Homo sapiens: one gene and its partner. The protein of the gene in region 2 purifies or fractionates together with the protein of the main gene of each other region. This does not show direct contact. Each region holds a gene or a part of one and is shown on either strand. Other genes may lie near its edges. The genes, in order: MTFMT and TRUB1.

The links.
Region 1: the proteins of TRUB1 (region 2) and MTFMT purify together in Homo sapiens (affinity purification with mass spectrometry; 2 studies listed by BioGRID and IntAct, with this or other methods). This does not show direct contact.

Annotation. Positions count from the first base shown.
Region 1 is NC_000015.10:65,004,656-65,012,639, forward strand, and holds part of MTFMT (methionyl-tRNA formyltransferase, mitochondrial), read right to left. Parts: intron 1,537-7,984; coding exon 1,458-1,536; intron 282-1,457; coding exon 199-281; intron 1-198. UniProt on the Homo sapiens protein: Methionyl-tRNA formyltransferase that formylates methionyl-tRNA in mitochondria and is crucial for translation initiation.
Region 2 is NC_000010.11:114,953,530-114,964,844, reverse strand, and holds part of TRUB1 (pseudouridylate synthase TRUB1), read right to left. Parts: intron 5,120-11,315; coding exon 5,038-5,119; intron 1-5,037. UniProt on the Homo sapiens protein: Pseudouridine synthase that catalyzes pseudouridylation of mRNAs and tRNAs. Mediates pseudouridylation of mRNAs with the consensus sequence 5'-GUUCNANNC-3', harboring a stem-loop structure. Constitutes the major pseudouridine synthase acting on mRNAs.

The DNA of each region.
Region 1 (7,984 bases), on a different chromosome or scaffold from region 2:
ATAATAATGCCTTGGCAAAACTTCATCACTTTCAAAAAATTATGCTAGAGACTTCACTATTTCTTAAGAAAATTAAATGATCTCCTGACCCAATCTATGGACAGGCAGTTAAGTGAAGTTCCAACTAAAAATAATAAATGATACAGACTATAACATAGTAAAACAACTATGATAACTTGAAACTAATGAAAAACATACCTTGCAATAAACCAATAGTATTTGTGACTGTTTGTGGTATATTACTGATCCTGGAATAAGAGCCTGTCCCGTTAATTTTGGATCTGAAGAATGGAAAAAAGAAAAGATATACAAGAGAAAAAAGCAATTATGCAACTTCATAGTACTTCTTAAAAATCAAAAAACATCTTGGGAGGCAGTACTGATACCGGAGAGAACACATTTGCTGATGTTGACTTTGTAAACCAAAACTTACAAGGAAACCACAGTGCTCTCTGTACATCAGAAACCCAAAGGAAAGCTTCCCATGCACATACAAAGCTATAATTCCTTTACCCAGTGACCACCTAAAATGCTGAATCTACAAGTTTTGTGTTAGCGCTTTGGTGAAATAACTAGCCAACAGGGGGAAATACATAGGATGTTTAGGATTTAGGCTGGCCCTTTCATCCCTGCCCAAACAAATCCTAATTCCTAGGTTCCTGGGGAACTCCAACTACCTCTAAATTAAACCAGCTTCCTCTGTGGCTCACATTCCTTCTGTCCACCGTATTGGCAGGATGCTGATGGGCCTCAGAATGGACTTGTGGCATGAAGTATGAATACACTCTGGCCTAGATTTTCACTGATTTGCCCAGATATTTTCATTATAATATTCACCAGAATGAAACTAATCGAGTCATTCTGCACTCTCTGAAAACCTTAAGGCAGGAAATCACAGAGCTTAAAATGGGATAGGAACACTGCTTTGCCTACTCCCCAGGGTCCTGTAATGATTTTTTTTTTTTTTTTTTTGAAATGGAGTTTCACTCATTGCCCAGGCTGGAGTGCAGCGGCGCAATCTTGGCTCACTGAAACCTCTGCCTCCCAGGTTCAAGTGACTCTCCTGCCTCAGCCTCCCAAGTAGCTGGGATTACAGGCATGTGCCACCATGCCCAGCTAAATTTTTGTATTTAGTAGAGACGGGGCTTCACCATGTCAGTCAGGCTAGTCTCGAACTCCTGACCTCAGCTGATCCACCCACCTTGGCCTCCCAAAGTGCTGGAATTACAGGCGTGAGCCACCGCGCCTGGCCTGTTCTTGTAATGATTAAATGAGAAAATATATGAGAATGAGTGTTGCAAAGAATAAGACAATAAGTGAATGTAAAGTATTATAATTACTGAACTGAAACAAACTAAAAGTTATTTTTAGTAATTGTGACATATGATAAAACAGACGTATTTCCAGATACACTACAGTGAAAACAGCTTCCATGTTAGCTATTCAAAAGTTAGTACCAGCAAGGACTGAACTGTTAACTTCTACCAAATCCAGAAGTTTAATGGTATTCGCCATCCAGAGCGTCTGCAACGGAATCTGCAAGTAAAATTAAAGAAGGTATGATAAAGGAATACACTCAACTCCCAAACCCTTTTCAACTACTATTTTGTGTTAATCTGGACTTTTCTTTCAATTAGAGGAATTGGGAACTCAGTCACTAAGTTTGATGGAACAGACCGTAAACATGACTCTCTACATCAGTGTTTCCAGGATTTATAAGATCTTTTTTTTTTTTTTTTTGAGACGGAGTCTCGTTGTGTCACCAGGCTGGAGTGCAGTGGCGCGATCTTGGCTCACTGCAAGCTCCGCCTCCCGGGTTCACGCCATTCTCCTGCTTCAGCCTCCCGAGTAGCTGGGACTACAGGCGCCTGCAACCATGCCCGGCTAATTTTTTGTATTTTAAGTAGAGACGGGGTTTCACCATGTTAGCCACGATGGTCTCTATCTCCTGACCTCATGATCCGCCCGCCTTAGCCTCCCAAAGTGCTGGGATTACAGGCGTGAGCCACCGCGCCCGGCCGATTTATAAGATCTTAAATGTTACTTTAAAATCAATGTTTATATCTAATATACTAATATTTCCAATTAAAAATTTATTATCCTTATAAAAAATGCAAGCATTACATTATGTTAAAAAATTTTAGAAAGTGATATTCTGTATTTATTCCCATCCCTATAGGTAACGACTGTTAAGTTTGATGTGCATTTCCCTGTATTTTTTTCTACAAATATTATTATAAAAATCTAGAACACAGTGATAGAGACAGGAGACAGCCAAATGCCACCCAGGTCATTATGCACAGTGGGCTTGACTCAACATGTCCATGGTGAAAAGTTCTGTCCCTTAACACATGCACAGTAAAGGAAATAAATCAAGGTGGCGTGGCTCAGACTAAGGGCCCGCATGAGCACTGGAAGAATGGGGGTGGAGCCACCAGGAATTTCTGCCTTATGCAGGGGAAGAGCCTGGCCTCTTCAGCTCCTGTGTGGTGGCCTGGTATTCAATCTGTGAGGTGGGAGCCTGTTGGCAGGACCCCCTCTTTTTTTGCTGAGAGCTTTCTTTTAATAAATTCCACTCTCCTCACCTTTCAATGTGTCCACGTGCCTAATTTTTCCTGGTTGTGAGACAAGAACCCAGATTTTAGCTGAGTTAAGGAGCAAAAAGTCCTGCATCAATACTGTTTTACAAGGACTTTTGTTATGTGACCATAAAGCATTGATGTTTCATCAGTACATACTTATCAATTTCACTCTATCTGCTGCACAGTAACCCATTTTATGAATATGTAATTTATGCAACTACCTTTATGATAGATATTTGTTATTTTCAATTTATTGCTATTTATAACACTATAAACTAGGGTAATAACCTTGTCGATATATCTTTGAGGGCTTACACATTTCTGGATAATAGTTTTGGGGTTTTTTGTTTTTAAAGTGGAATGCGTGGGTTAAACAGCATCAACATTTTATTGCTAAACTGCCTGGATAAGTGAGAAAAAAATATGATAATCTCTTGCTGTTTATTATTAGCGAAGCTGAGAAGCTGTCCATATATTTATGTGCACTTTTAATTTATTTATCTGTAACCTGCCTATTTATGCCCTTTGGTTATATTTTTTAAAACTGGGATGGTTATCTCATTAATTTGCAAAAATATTTTCTATATTTAGGAAATTAGCCTTTTAACTCTTACATGTGTTGTGAATATTTTCCTCAGTTTGTTGACTTTTAATCTTGGGGACAGCCATTTTTTCCATGCATAAGTTTTTTATTTTCATAATTATATTTCTAAGTCTTTTCTCTCATTACTTTGGTGGTTCGTATCATACTTAAAAAGGCCTACCCCACACTTTAAGATTATTAAATATTGTCAAATTATTCAGTTGTGCTTTTTTATAGTCCTTGTGATTTTACTTTTTATATTTAAATCCTTGATCCATCTATATTTTGATTTTTTTATTATGGTAAAAAACACATAAGAAAAATGTGCTCAATTAACAAATTGTAAGTATACCATACAGTATTGTTAACTACATATGCATTGTTATAATATAGCACTTACTATGATTTTAAAAGATAGGATTTGAGGGCTTCCCCCACCAATGGTTGGCCAGTTATCCCAATACTATTTACTAGATAATCCATCTTACCCTTCCCTCCAGTATGAAATACCACCTTTATCATGTAACACATTTCCAACATACCTGAGATCCTACAGCCTGATTTAAATGTTAATAAAATTTAACACACACCAGGAAATAAGTTCTCTAAAATTTCTGAATTGAATGCATTTATTTCCAGACTGTAGTTCAATCCTCTATTTCATACATGAAGAGAGTGAGGCTCAGAGAAATGCAGCTATTTTCCCAAGGTTGGACCCAGCTAGTTAGTAGCAAAGCCAGGACTGGCTTCTGTTTTCTGATTCTCAGTGCAGTGCTCTTTTTATGACACCCCTTAAAGAGGGTATTTAACTTTCAGAAGAGTTAGGTTGTTGTAATAATTTGAACATTAAATCAAATAAGTAAATGAATTTGAAGAACAAGTTCATAACTGTATCTATGTCATAGCCTCTTCTATAACTTGCTAGCTCACTTTTCTTTTGCCCGCTTCAATAAAAGTTCTGAAACGATTTTCATATGTGCAATTTTTTTCTTTTAAATAACTCAAAATATTTTTGAAACATGCTTACTGACTAAAAAAGATTTCTATTTACTGAGAGTAATAAACATGCTAGGTACATACTCAGAATATAGTCTTGTTCTTCGGGAGGTAAAGCTCACCTTATCATCAGAGCATTGTAGAAAGGAAAGGGATGGTAAGAATATAATCATTTTGGTGTCTGCCATCATTACTGCCAAAATAGTATGTTTGCATGAATTTACATTCACCTAGTTCATTTCCTTTGATCTTGCCAGTTGTGTACATGGTCATTAATCCCACTTTAGAGGTAAAAAAAGCAGAAGCTCAAAGACAAGGGCCTTCCTCTCATTAGTAAAGGGCAACTCTAGGAACCAAACCCCACCTTCTGGCTCAGTCTTTTATAGCACAAAGCTTTTCTCCATGTACAGGGAAGATAAACCGCAGAGGGTAAGAATCATCATGTAGTAAGTTATAGGTGCCAAGAGATTTCAAGCTACTGGCCTAAATTGCATCTCAGGAAGTTGTCTACTTGATATCTCCATATGAACGTCTTCTAACTTAATATATGTCAAACTTAACATGGCCAAAACTATTGATTTCTCTTCCCAAATGTTCCTCCCCAGACATCCTCATCTCAATTAAATGGTTCCACTATTCACCCAGTTTCTCAAGCCAAAAATCTATGAATGATCCTAATTTATCTATCTCTAATTTCCCAGATTCCATCAGCAAATTCCGCTGACTCTATCTCCAAGCATAGTCTGGATGTCCACTTCTTTTTATCCACCATTATCATTGTTCCAAACTGCCATCATCTGTCATCTGGCTACAGTCGCAGCAGCTTCTTTTTATTTTTTTAATTTTTTTTTTTAAAGACCGGATCTTGCTCTGTCATCCAGGCTGGAAGTGCAGTGGTGGAATCACAGCTCACTGCAGCCTCAACCTCCCAGGGTCAAGTGATCCTCCTACCTCAGCCTCCCGAGTAGCTGGGACTACAGGTGCATCCCACAATACCTAGCTAATTTTTGTATATTTTGTAGAGACAGGGTTTCACCATGTTGCCCAGACTGGTCTGGAACTCCAGGGCTCAAGCGATTCACTCTTCTTGGCCTCCCAAAGTGCTGGTATTACAGGTGTGAGCCACCACACCCAACCAATTCCCTAACTGACCTCCACTCCACTCTCTAGCAGCAGCCAGGGCAACCTTTTAAGAATGTACATACCTAATCCCATTACTCCCCTGCCGTGGCCCTCTGATGTCAATCCTACTCAATCTTGCTTCTCCCCTCACCTTAGCTACTCTCCATCTTGCCAGCTATGCTCCAGCCACACCAGCCTCATTTCTGTCCCTCAAACATGTCCAACTCTTTTCCATCTTGGGTTGTTTTTTTGTTTTGTTTTGTTTTTTGACAGCTTTATTGAGATGTAATTCACATACCAGAAAATTCACCCTTTTGAAGCTTCCAAGTCAGTGGTTTTTAGTAGACTCAGGGTCATTCAACCAATGTCACTCGTTTTTTTCTTGCCTAATTTTTAGAACATTTTCATTACCTCTCTCTCCCAGAAAAAACGCCATCCATTATCAGAAAATTCCCATTATCCTCTCTCCTCCAGCCTATGGATTTGCCTATTTTGGACATTTCATATAAATGGAATAATAACATATGTAGTCTGTTGTGACAGGGTTTTTTCACTTAGCATATTTTTCAGGTTCATCCATGTCATAAGCATGTGATTATGGTTATGGCTGAGTATTAATAATATTCCACCGTATGGCTATATACCACATTTTTTTAACGCATCCCTCAGTTGGATATTTGGGTTGTTTTCACTTTTTGGCCATTCTGAATAATGCTGCTATGAAGATTCGGGTACACATTTTTGTGTGAGCACAATGTTTCCAATTCTCTTGAGTATAAACCTAGGAAAGGAAATGCTGGGTCATAAGATACTTCTGTGTTTCACTTTTTGAGGAACTGCCAAACTGTTTTCCACACAGGTTGCACCATTTTTAAGAGGTAAACATGGTACCATGAATGTATGAAGTTTCCAAATTTCTCCACATCCTTGCCAACACTAGTTTTTGTCTGTTTTTTGAATTATAGCCATCCTAATGGGTGTGAAGTGGTATCTCATTGTGGTTCTGATTTGCATATCCCTAAAGACAGATGAAGTTGCTGATCTTTTATATGCTTACTGGCCATTCATATTATGTATCTGCTTGAAACAAATGTCTACTCAGGGCCAGGGCAGTGGCTCATGCCTGTAATCCCAGCACTTAGGGAGGCTGAGGCAGGTGGATCACCTGAGGATAGGAGTTCGAGACCAGCCAGGTCAACATGGTGAAACCCCGTCTCTACTAAAAGTACAAAAATTAGCCGGGCGTGGTGGCGCTTGCCTATAATCCCAGCTACTAGGGAGGCTGAGGCAGGAGAATCGCTTGAATCCAGGAGGCAGAGGTTGCAATGAGCCAAGGTCGCACCATTGCACTCCAGCCTGGGCAACAAGAGCAAGACTCCATCTCAAAAACAAACAAAAAAGAAATGTTTACTCAGAATTTTTGGCCATTTTTAATTGGGTTATTTGTCGTTTTACTGCTGAGTCATTGTAAGAATTCTTTACTCTGGATATTAGGCCCTTATCAGTTATATGATTTGCAAATATTCCCTCCCATTCTGTAAGCTGTCTTTTTTTTTTTTTTTTTTTTTTTTTTTTGAGACAGGGTCTCACTTTGTCACCCAGGATGAAACACAGTAGTGCAATCACAGCTCACTGCAGCCTCGACCTCCCTGGCTCAAGTGCATCCTCCCATTCCAGCCTCCCAAGTAGCTAGGACCACAGGTGTGCACCATGATGCCCAGCTAATTTTTTACTTTTTGTAATGATGGGGACTCACTACATTGCCCAGTCTGGTCTCAAATTCTTGGGTTCAAGCAGTCCTCCTGTCTCAGCCTCCCAAAGTGCTGGGATTATAGGCATGAGCCACCATGCCTGGCCTACCTGTCTTTTTTACTTTGTTGATAGTGTCCTTTGAAGCACAACTATTTTTAATTTTGATGAAGTCCAATTTCTCTATTTTTAGTCTGATTGCTTATGCTTCATGGCATCATAGCTAAGAAACCACTGCCTAATTCAATGTCATGAATATTTACACCTATATTTTCTTCTAAGAGTTTTCTAGTTTTAGCTATTCATTTAGCTTCTTTAACTTTTACATATGATGTGACATAGGGTCCAAATTCATTCTTTTGATTGTGGACATCCAGTTATCCCAGCTCCATTTATTGAGAATACTATTCTTTCTCCATTGGATTGTCTTGGCACTCTTGTCAAAAAAAAAAAAAAAAAAAAAAAAAAAAAAGGTGGGTGGGAGGGGAGAGGGATAGCATTAGGAGATATACCTCATGTAAATGATGAGTTAATGGGTACAGCACACCAACATGGCACATGTATACATATGTAACAAACCTGCACATTGTGCACATGTACCCTAGAACTTAAAGTATAATAATAATAATAATAATAAAAAGAACTATCTTTTGGGAACTACCTTTAGAAAAAAAAATCAATTGACCATAAATGTATGGGTTTATTTCTAGACTTTTAAAAAAATTTGAGACAGAGTCTCACTCTGTCACCCAGGCTGGAGTGCAGTGGTGTGATCTCAGGTCACTGCAACCTCCACCTCCCAGGTTCAAGTGATTCTCGTGCCTTAGCCTCCTGAGTAGCTGGGACTACAAGCGTGCACCACCATATCTGGCTAATTTTTGTAAATATTTTTAGTAGAGATGAGGTTTCACCATGTTGGCCAGGCTGGTCTCAAACTCCTGACCTCAAGTGA
Region 2 (11,315 bases):
TAGTCTGGTGTATATACAAGTATAAACAAACTGATCAATGTAAAAAAATAGATTTTTTTTTAAACAATAGCCTAAGTGGGTGCTTGATGTGTAATAAAGAAGAGAACACAAGAGTACTGGGAAAGTGCTGAAGCAACTGGACATCCATGCAGGAAGAAAAGGTGGATTGCAGAGGGAACATGAAAGGCAAAGCAATAACAGCTTCTAGAACATAGGAAAATATCTTCACACTTTTAGAGTCAAAAAAGTTTTCTTAAACAGGACACCAAAAGGACCAACCATAAAGGAGAAGGCCTGATAAGCTGGACTAAATTAAAACTAAGAACTTGTGTTTTTCAAAAGACAAGAGAGGAAAAAGGCAAGCCACAAAGTAAGAGAAAATATCTGCAACACACATAGGCAAAAGAAGAGAACATATCCAGACTATATAAAGAACCTATGCATCCTCGAATGGAAGGTGCTTAATAAAAAACAAAAACTCATACAAATGTATAAGAAAAAGGCAACTCAAAAGGGAAAGAAAAAACAAAAAATGGGTAAGAGACCTGAACAGACAATACAAAAAAGAAGATGGCTAATAAGCCAAAAACACTTAATAAGGTGCCAAATCTCATCAATAATCAAATTAAAACCACAATGGAATTATCACTACACACTCACCAGAACAGCCAAAATTAAAAACACTATTAATAGCTAAGTATGTGGGGCAAGTGGAATGCTTATGCACTCCTAGTGGAAATGCAAAGTTTTCCAAGTACAATCACTTTGGACAACTGTTTGACAATTTCCAGTACAGTTAAATATACACCCACTCTATAACCCAGGAACACATGCAGGCACACACGTGCACACGCACACACACACACACACACACACACGACCTATATTCCACTTGGGTATATACCCAAAAGAAATGACGGTAGAAATGTGTCTACCAAAAGGCAGGTATAAAATATACACAGCACTTTATTCACAAAGCCCCAAACTGGGAGAGTATGTGTGTAGTATATTCACACAGTGGCATACTACATAGCAACAAAAAAGTCCAAAATACTCATACATGTACCAACATGGATCTCAAAAATATAATAAGTGGAAGAATTTAGACACCAAAGGACACATAGTGTTTAATTCCATTTATACTAAATTCAAAAACAGGCAAAACTATGCCTTAGTTTTAAAACCATCTCCATAGCATTGGATGTTAGAACAGTAGTTATCTTTGCAAAAGGAGGACAGGGTAATGACAGATAGGGCACAAGTGTGGTTTCTAGCAATCTTCTATTTCTTGACTAAGGGTGATAGCTAGCTACAGATATTTGTCTTGTGCAAATTGATAGAGCTGTACCTTTATTTTTTGTTCAGTTTTCTTTACTTGTACATTTTATAATGAAAAGTTTAAATGCAAACAGCTTTGTAAGAATTTTTATACCCAGCTACACACTAGTCCAATTATAGCATATACCCTATTGGTTCATATCACAATTTGAAACTAAATTCAACTCTTGAGCTTACTCCAGGATAAGTCTCAGCAGCCAAACCATATACAGTCCAAGAGGAGACAGTACCATTAGATACAACATCAGCTACGTCCATTTGAGAAGACCTTGGTAACATCTGATCTCAGGACTAAGGGGTGGTGGTGTTTAGAATAAAAGATTAGCATGAGATTCCACTTTTCTTTCTACCTTTGTTGACTCATGGGAGGGACAGAAAAAACTACTCCCAGTACAGGGACAGTTAGGCCTTCCCGGATGCTTGGTCCACATCTAGCCTGGGAAGCTATGGTCTTAGTGTCCTTAGCTCAGCGGAGAACAGATGAGCACACTGAAGCTGTGTGTCCTCAGAGACACTGGCAATAGTAGCAGACACTTAATACCTAGATGTGGATGAGAAGACAGCAGCAGAAGGCAGGAAGATGCTTTGCCTTTCCCGGCTTATCTGCAGTCATCTTTTCTGAGAATGCCTCTGCTGCCTATCTTTTTTGATTCAAACTCTATATGTCATATATGTCATTCTGTATGCCGTATACCACACCAAAAATACACTACTGAGGACCAAAAGAGACATGGTTTCAGCCTCATGGCTGAAATACACCTGCATGACTATCTGGCAGACATCCTGAAGTCTGACAGTACACAGGACAATTCTTCATTGTGTTCTACGATCCTCTGTGTTACAGGACATCTGTCATCCCTGGTCTCCACCCACTGAAGGCAGCTGGTGTCACCACCCCACCCAGTCATTGTAACAACTAGAAACACAGTTTTTAATTGACCTGTCAAGAACAACTGATGTTGGCTAAAGTAACTCAGTATGCAGTCAATGGCAAATTAATGTTCTTAAGTCATTTTGTCCTATCTAGACAAATACTATTTTTAACTGTTATTTCAGACAGCTGAAAGCTAGCTCAGAGGAATAAGAAAATGAGTCTCTGGCTTAGACTCAAACATCAAAGCATGTAACAGGGCCTTTCCCTTTGTTCTCTATCATAACACTCTATTATTCCTAAATAGCATTTTTCACTATTTACAATTATGCTGTATGTTTGAGTGCTGATCAGGAGTTCAAGACCAGCCTGGCCAACAAAGTGAAACCCTGCCTCTACTAAAAATGCAAAAAATAGTCAGGCATGGTGGTGCATGCCTGTAGTCCCAGCTACTCAGGAGGCTGAGGCAGAAGAATCACTTGAACCCAGGAAGCAGAGGTTACAGTGAGCCAAGAGTGCACCACTGCACCCCAGCCAAAAGACTTTTAGTCTGCTAATATCTGTGTGCTTACATATGAATGCACCTACTTTATTATAAATTACTTTTATTTCTTACTTATATTCCATTTACTACATCATATTGATTTTTCTCAATGTATAAGTAAATTCAAGTATCTCTGAATTTTATTTCAGGATAGTAAAGAAGGCATTATAAGATATTGGTCATAGGTCTCTGTATTAGGTCTCAGAAGGCTGAGAATATTGGTCAGAGTTCTCCATTAGACAGTAAGTTCCTTAAGGACACAAGCTAGGTCTTACATTTATCTATCTTTCCCTTGGTACCTGCTATAGCAGCTTCAACAAATAAAAAATATTTGTTGATTTACTGAAAGCACACAGAAAAATCATGCCAATCAGCAAAATTCTCTGAGCTCTCATTTTCCGGGACTATAAATACTATTCAATAAACTGTAGGAAGCTCTTCTCTTCACAGCCTGAAAAACGTTCTTAGTTTCTCTATGATTTACTGCATCATTACAATGAGATGATTTAACAAACTGAGCTTTCTTTAAGGTAAGTAAATAAGGTTACAAATTACCTAATACAGCATAGAGCTTTTTAAAATACTAAAATGCTTAAGAATAGGAAGAAAGGATATGTTTAAGTATTTTTGTCACCCTGGGCCCCTTCCAGCATCCTCAATGAATTACACTATCATGTAACCAATTTTAAAACCCCAAAACCTAGGTCATGGTTGACAACTTCCTCGCTATCCTGTCCAATCAACTAAAAATCAAGTCTTGCTAATTTTACTTCCTAATCATGGGAAATTTTTCTAATAGGAAAACTCTGTCTCTACCACTGGCACCCTGGTCCAACTTACCATCATCTCTGCTTGGACTACTATAAGAGCCTCATGACTTGTCTATGAGACCTCCAAATTCATTCTCCTCCAATCAATCCTCATAATCACACTATGAGGTTGCTATCATTATTGTCATTTTGGAGATGGAAAAACTACAACATAAAGAGACTAAGAAAATTTCAAATTTGCGCAGCTAGATAAGGGCAGAGCTAGAAATTAAACCCAGATTTGTCTACTCTAGTGCGCCTTATATTTTTCACCACGTGGTACCCACACCCCCCAGCCTTAATTATATTACCCCAGGACTACTGTTCTGAATAATAATCATTCTCCTTATTATGGTTTGGTAAATGGAGTCAGAGATACAGGAGACTTAATTACATAAGTACTTATAAATACTTTAGTATCCTCTGGAAGTCTCTGACGTCCTCCTATTGCCCTATGCCTCCTTAATCTTAAAGTCTTCTGGTTGAAGGTTATAGCTGGCTTTCAGTTAAGTGAGGGTCTGCTATTATTTATTAATAATAATAATTCCAAGAATATTTCAACATCTGTTTTTGAAAAGCCTTGAAATCAATCAGTAATTTTTCTTTTCATTATGTTGCTTGATTAATTGAGCAAGATACTAAGCTACATATAAATGTTAACAGAAAAAATGAAGCTATTATGAACAATAAAAAGGTTGGCCTCACTACTGGGGCAATATGCAGTACGTAATAAGGATAATCAACACAAAAATATAAGGGGGCCAAATGCTGGCTTGCCTATGACTAAGAGATAACACTAAACAAAAAAACAGTCCACAAATTGGTGACATAATGATGCAGGTGAACTGACTTAGAAAACTGCAATTGCTGCATTATAAACAGCATAAGCACTGTGAGAGTTGCTAGGAGACCATTTAATTTATCTATTCTTCCTTACGGTAGTGAAAGAAGGGATAGTAGGAAACTTAAGGTGGGCCCCAGTGAGTTCTGGTTTACTTCCAGAGAAATAGCTTGCCCTCTGTCCTCTTTTTACATAGTCCGAAAGCACAAAAACATGACAAGTTTTAAAGTACTAAACCTGGTACATTTATTTCAACAGCTGACAGGTAATATATTTTTTTTTAATGGCAAGACAGATGAAATCTAACAGAGTATCTCTGCTTTGTTTCTCGTTTACTAGGGAAAATAACCTAAATCCTAGCCATACATGCTTTTGCAAGGAGGTTATTTGGAAGAATAATTCTGAACACTTAAAACATCACTATAGAAAAAGAGGCAATCACAATAAATCTTTATTCAAAAACTCCTATCAAGTAAGCAACAATGCGATAAACAATTTCCAATCTTCTTAGCCCAAAGAAACACACTGAGAATTAAAATGGCTGATAATATCAGAGATTTGTTTTAAAATGCTACCTGCACAGAAACTTTTCCTAAATGTTAGAAAAGAGGCCTACATTAGATGAGCTTCATACCGTAAGGTTTTTCTTCTGTTACCCTCCCCGTAGAATCTAGTGTATCAGTAGCTTTCCCCAGTTCTCCAATGGCAGTATATCTCTAGAGGAAGGGAAACAAGAGAGAAAATGGGCCGTGAGGCAAACAAAAACTGTTATGCATGTCTTGAAGTTTACACAGAATTTCACTACTACTACCAACCTGATACAAAATACAGGCTAAAACAACAGACTGCAATTGTTTTGTTTTTAATATGTGGAAAGCAATTGTGTAAACTGAAGAACATTAACAAACGTCTCACACTAGCCAATATGAGAAAGATAAACCTGATTTTATTGATAATTATGGCTTAATAATTATGACCATTATTATTGTAAGCAAATTTCTCAAACCACCTTTATACTGAGAAGTTTGTTTAAGGAAAATGTTCAAGTCTATCCATGAGTAGAGAGAATGGTACAATAGCCTTGACTCCATGGTCATCATAAGATTCAATAATCTTCCCACATATACAATTAAAATTAATTTTAAATAAGCCAACTTAGTACTTCTTACATGAAATACTAAGACAATTCTTAGTAACTAGGTCATGTATTAAACAAAAGCTAAATCTGTAGAAAAAGAGCAAAACCAGTATAGTCACAGAATTAGTGACTTAACTATTAAATGTGTTTTTTGTTTGTTTGTTTGTTTGAGATGGAGTTTTGCTCGCTGCCCAGGCTGCAGTGCAGTGGTGCGATCTCGGCTCACTGCAACCTCCGTCCCCCGGGTTCAAGCGATTCTCCTGCCTCACCCTGTGGAGTAGCTGGGATTACAGGCACCCGCCACCACGCCCGGCTAATTTTTTGTATTTTTAGTAGAGATGGGGTTTCACCATGTTGTCAGGCTGGTCTCGAACTTCTGACCTCAGGTGATCCACCCACCTCGGCCTCCCAAAGCCAAAGTGCTAGGATTACAGGCGTGAGCCACCACGCCCGGCCATGTGTTTTCTTAATAAAGATAAATTACTACTTAAGATCTCAGGAACAAGAATCGTTTCTAAGAACTGATCTTTATTCACAAGTGAAGAATTAGATCATTCTTAGTTACGTGAGGATTGTCTTATTTCTCATCTTAGGACACACTTGTAGTACGTACTCTTTTCACTTTGGTCAAACGCAAATTTTATTTGGGGCATCACATGAAGTAGTGAAAAAAGTGCAAGAACTTTATTTCCCACTGAAAATAATCTGTATTTATGTGAGCAATTTTATAAAAGAAAACTCAAAGTACTTTGCAGAAATATAAGCTTATTCATGACAAATTTATGAGGCTAGTGAAGGGACCCAAGACAAAAATGAGAAAAATATTAAAACTTCAAAACCTTGTAAGTATGCAGACATTTTATAACAGCTTAAGGCCCTTCGATGAAATCACCTTAATATTATCTAGCTCAGATTTTTTAAAAATAAATATAATACAGAAGGGAATATTCCAACGCATTTCAATTAATTTTTTTAAAGTTTCATAGGTATTGACAAAAATTAGTTTTTTGTAACTAAACACAGTCTCATCACCTGAGACACCCATTCCTGCTTCTATATTTTGGGACAATCAACCTCGACTAAGCATACCACAGGGGGAAGTATGAGAGAAGTACAACAATGGTAACAGCACAGGCTCAGGGTCAACTGGCTGGATTTGAATTCTGACTGTACCACAATTTGTAGACCAAGTTAGTCTTTCCGGCTGGAGCTTAATTTCCTTATCTTAAAATGTGGAAAACAATAATGCCTCATGAGAAGAAGCAAAGAGTTTAGAGTAACAATATCTAGCCCTGGTAAATAACAGATAATAATACCATCATCATCTTTATTTTCTAAGAAAGAAAATACAGAATGATTCGCAGTTAACAGTGGCTAGAGTTGACTCATCTGGTTACAGTCAGCTCCCATAAGGAAAGCAAAGCATCAAAATGCTTTATGATTTTTTTGTCTTTAGAGTCTGTTTAGTTGCATAAGAAAACCATGGTGCAATCTTGCAGACTATGCCTTGAATGTATCTGCAGTATTCTGCTCTGCAACGAGTTTGAACTAGGAACCTTAACATGTTTCCCAAGTATGCAATGCCCATTCTAGTCTCTGGACTCTTGGTGTTTTGTGCACCTGGGGCACATATGCCACTTCCCTGGCCTTGAACTCCCACTCTTCTCTAAGGATCAAACCTTATTCAGCTTTCAAAGCCACCCCTTAATCCATCCCAACTTCCATTTACCCACCTCCACAGCATGACTAAGAGTAGGTGCTCGATACAAATTCCATACATAGAAAGAAGGAAGGCATATATCAAATCCACAAATTCGATCATGTTTCTTAAGGACTATGAATGTCCAAAGTATTCTCCTAAGTGCTAGGGAAGGATACACAGATACATAAGATAGATTGCTCTCCCTCTAAGAGGTTACAGTGTAACAGGAAAACTTCAATAAACACAACTACTGCAGAGAGGACTGGATATAATGGCAACAACAGACATGTCTGGTTTATCTCACTGAGCTCTCATATCACACATATCACACATCTTAGCACATGATGACCTACAGAGATATTCACTGTTTTCCAAGTATACTTTATTGATCCTTACTTTCTGCAAGTATGAACTCTCAGCTAGAGTTTCCCATTGCTCATCTATTGTGTTCTTTCCTAAATAGAAACACAGTAGCAGCTTAATAAAAAGTTGCTGACAGAATGATACACATGCTAGAGAAGTGCCTATGTGTGCAATTCTTCACATTTCACCATAGTTTTGAATATCTAGATTTCATCTGCTAAGTCTCAACCCACTCCAGGGTCTGCAATTATATTGTATGTAGCTACGTGCTGGATTCTTTTTAGGGGAGACAATATCTAAATCAACATTCTCAAATCAAATCAAATCAAAATGTTCTCAAACATTTTGCTTTCAGAACTCCTATACACACTTAAAACTTATTGAGAAACCCTGGCACACATTTTTTAAAAACATGTTATATCTGCCTAGATTTATTGTATTAGAAATTAAAGCTGAAAAATGTTTAAAACTTCCATTAGCCATCAGAGCAATGATGTCATTGCACATCTAGTAATCTCTGAAAAACTCTACCATGTATTTGTGGGATTGCAAGTTAAAAAGGCAAAACTATGAAAATAGTTTCAATTTCAACAGACACCCTGAAAGAGTCTCAGGAGTCCTTAGACCACACCCTGCGAACCGATGATTGAAATCAGCTGTCTCCTAGCTTTCCCTTGTCCTGGCATCTAGTTATAATTATCCTTCAATTTTATTCAATTATCCACAAACCATTTAGAAAAATTCACCCACACAGTTAAGCCTTCAGCTGAAACAAAGCCTCACGACCAAAAAGATATTGGGATAGAAGAAAAAAGACATGGAGATACACACATTCAACCCTAACATTTTATCTTATGGAGTCTAAAATATTTCTTTTCACTGGCTTAAATTCTACGTAGAGTCTGTGCTTTGGAGTTGTTAATTCTCCAAGACGTATACCTGGGAACCGTGAATTCTACTACTGTATTCATTACAATGTAATTCTACTGCAACAAAAGAGAGGTCCTGAAGAACATTCCATTGACCTGTGTACTCTCTGGGACTCACAGTTTCTCACTGGTATTATTCTACTCTCTACTTTACTCATCGTCAAGCTCCCTAAACCCCACAGCAGGTATTAGCTAGACATCTCTAGCAGCAAATCAGCTTCTGTTCTGTTTAGGAGAAAGAAAAATGTTTCTACTACAGAAAGTATACACACAATCATTTCCTTGGATCTCAACTGAGGTGTGATTTTGAAAGCTTGTGATTTAAACCTTCACAAACAAAATAGGGATATTACTGAGGATGAGAAAGAACACTTTTTAAAAAACCTATCAAACCAAAAACATGTGGCTTTGAATGTCTTCATTAAGAAGGAACAGTCCTTTTTTATAGTTCATAAGTATAAGCCCTTTAAAATTTTCAATACAGTATTTATGAAATATATGAAAATTAATAGCGTATATAGAAAAGGTACAAACTGGACTAGCCTCTGGAGAAAACTGATTAGAAATGCTGAAATCTTCAAGAGTTGGCTAAGTTTCATAGGAGCATTACTCAAGCCACACTTTAGAGTTCTCATAACTGGTTAACCTAAAAATGTTACTGTGTTCTTGGGGAAAGTTACTATCCTTTGACCACACCAAGAAGGGGAAACTTCATTCACTCCAATGATGACACTTGTTTAACTACTGGAGGGGGATACAAAGTTGCCTTCTGAGGAGATGCTGGCTTTGCCTGCAGGTGCCACTATGGTTTACCTGCACAGAGATATGGAGGTACCTTTATATCTGGACATGCTAGTTAGATTATTCAGGTTTTCATAACCTTTCCATCTGGTTTCTAAAGCATTTATAAAGTAACCAACTTTGATCAACAATATAGAAAACTAATAAAGACAGCACTCCAAAACCTCATCTGTTTTCTTCTGTTCCTTCTGTCTGTTCCTTCAAAGTACGACATCTGCTATCCAGCTTTTGCTGAATGACTGGCTCAAAGAAAGTGTAATTTAGGGAAGATATAAGAGGGGCTATTTGCCCTCCTCTAGGTAAGCAACGTTTTATACTTAGATCAACTTAGGCCAAAGGAACACATCAGCCTAACCTCTCAGAATTTTACCTAAACTGTATTTTATGTAGCTCCATTTCTACATCTGTTGTAAAACTATTTTTGAAAATCACCATCTATCTGTCATTTAATATCTCTTATTGTCAGAAACTTCTTTCTGGCTTTAATGTCCAAGGAAAGTCTGTCTCTCCCTTAAAGAACTGGCATGCTTTCTCTTTCTGATGAGTGCAATATTTTGCCTACATCACCAGCAATCACAGATAGCCATGAAAAAAAAAAAAGAAATTAACTGTATTCAAGAGTTCCAACAGAACTTGCCTGAGTAAAATTAATTTCAGGTGTCTACAGAACATGTGGCTAGAAAGCTCCAACAGGCCTGGACCTCAAGAGAGAGACTTGGGGATAAGTAAAATACTTGGGAATAGTAATAACAGTATTTAATGAGCAATTTCCATACACAAGGCACTGTACAAAAAGTTCACATGCTTTTCACACACATTATACACATAATCCTAAATGATCAGGCACAGGGAAAAAAAAAAAGACTTGAGAAATATGATCACTGGCAGAACAAAGCTCACTCCAAGGCAGGAGAGGAAGACAATGAGGAACACAGAGCAGTGGCTCTTTTCTTAACTTTTACCCTGATCTGAATGGGAGGAAATGCAAGAAATGATTTGGGTGGTCTGATTAGTGTCTAGTCTTCACAGATGGAAGCAAAATAATGTGATGGCCTAAAGATTTTACTTAAAAGCCAGAATTTCATCTAGTAAGTGACAGTAGTTGTATGAAGTGGCACCATGTTGAAGAAGATTCTAAGGGTGTTTCTTGATTCAGCAAGAAGAAATGTTAGGCCATGTTCAATTAGCAATATCTCCAATTACGACTGGCTAGGGAGAGAAGGCTGTTCTGTAATATGGCTGTAACAAGAACACTGAATATTTGCCATCCTAGAACTAAATATTTCTACTCTTGACGTAACTCCATCCTACACATACCAGAAGTCTAATTTTTCTAGTTGCACTGTGATGCAAATAAAAATTCATCTGTCAAAATAGGAAGTGAAGAAAAAGTGGACATTAGATCTGGGCCAAGTTAGGGGGCTGCAGCCACATTTTTTTTTTTAATGAAATAGAAGGAAAAGTATCAAGAATACATCATACATAGGGTTAGAGTTGGATAAAGTTTGGATGTCTGCCCCCTCCAAATCTCATGTTGAAATATAATCCCCAGTGTTGGAGGTGGGGCATGGTGGGAATTGTCTGGGTTATGAGGGCGGATCCTGCATTAATTGCTTGGTGCCCTCCCTGCAATGAGTTCACGCGAGATCTGGCTGTTTAAAAGAGCCTGGCACCTCCGCCTCTCTCTCTGTCACTCCCTCTCTCACCATGCGACATGGCCACAAGTGTAAGCTTCCAGAGGCCCTCACCAGAAGCAGATACCAGTACCTTGTTTCTTGTACAGACTTCAGAACCATGAGCCAAATGAACCTCTTTTCTTTATAAATTACCCAGCCTCGACTACTCCTTTACAGCAACACAAACAGACTAACACAAAGTTGTTTGATAAAATTTTTCCTTTTCATAAATGTATGTATCTATATGGTCATTACATAAAATATGTTTCTTACTATGGGTCTTAGTCAAAAAAATTTTGAAAG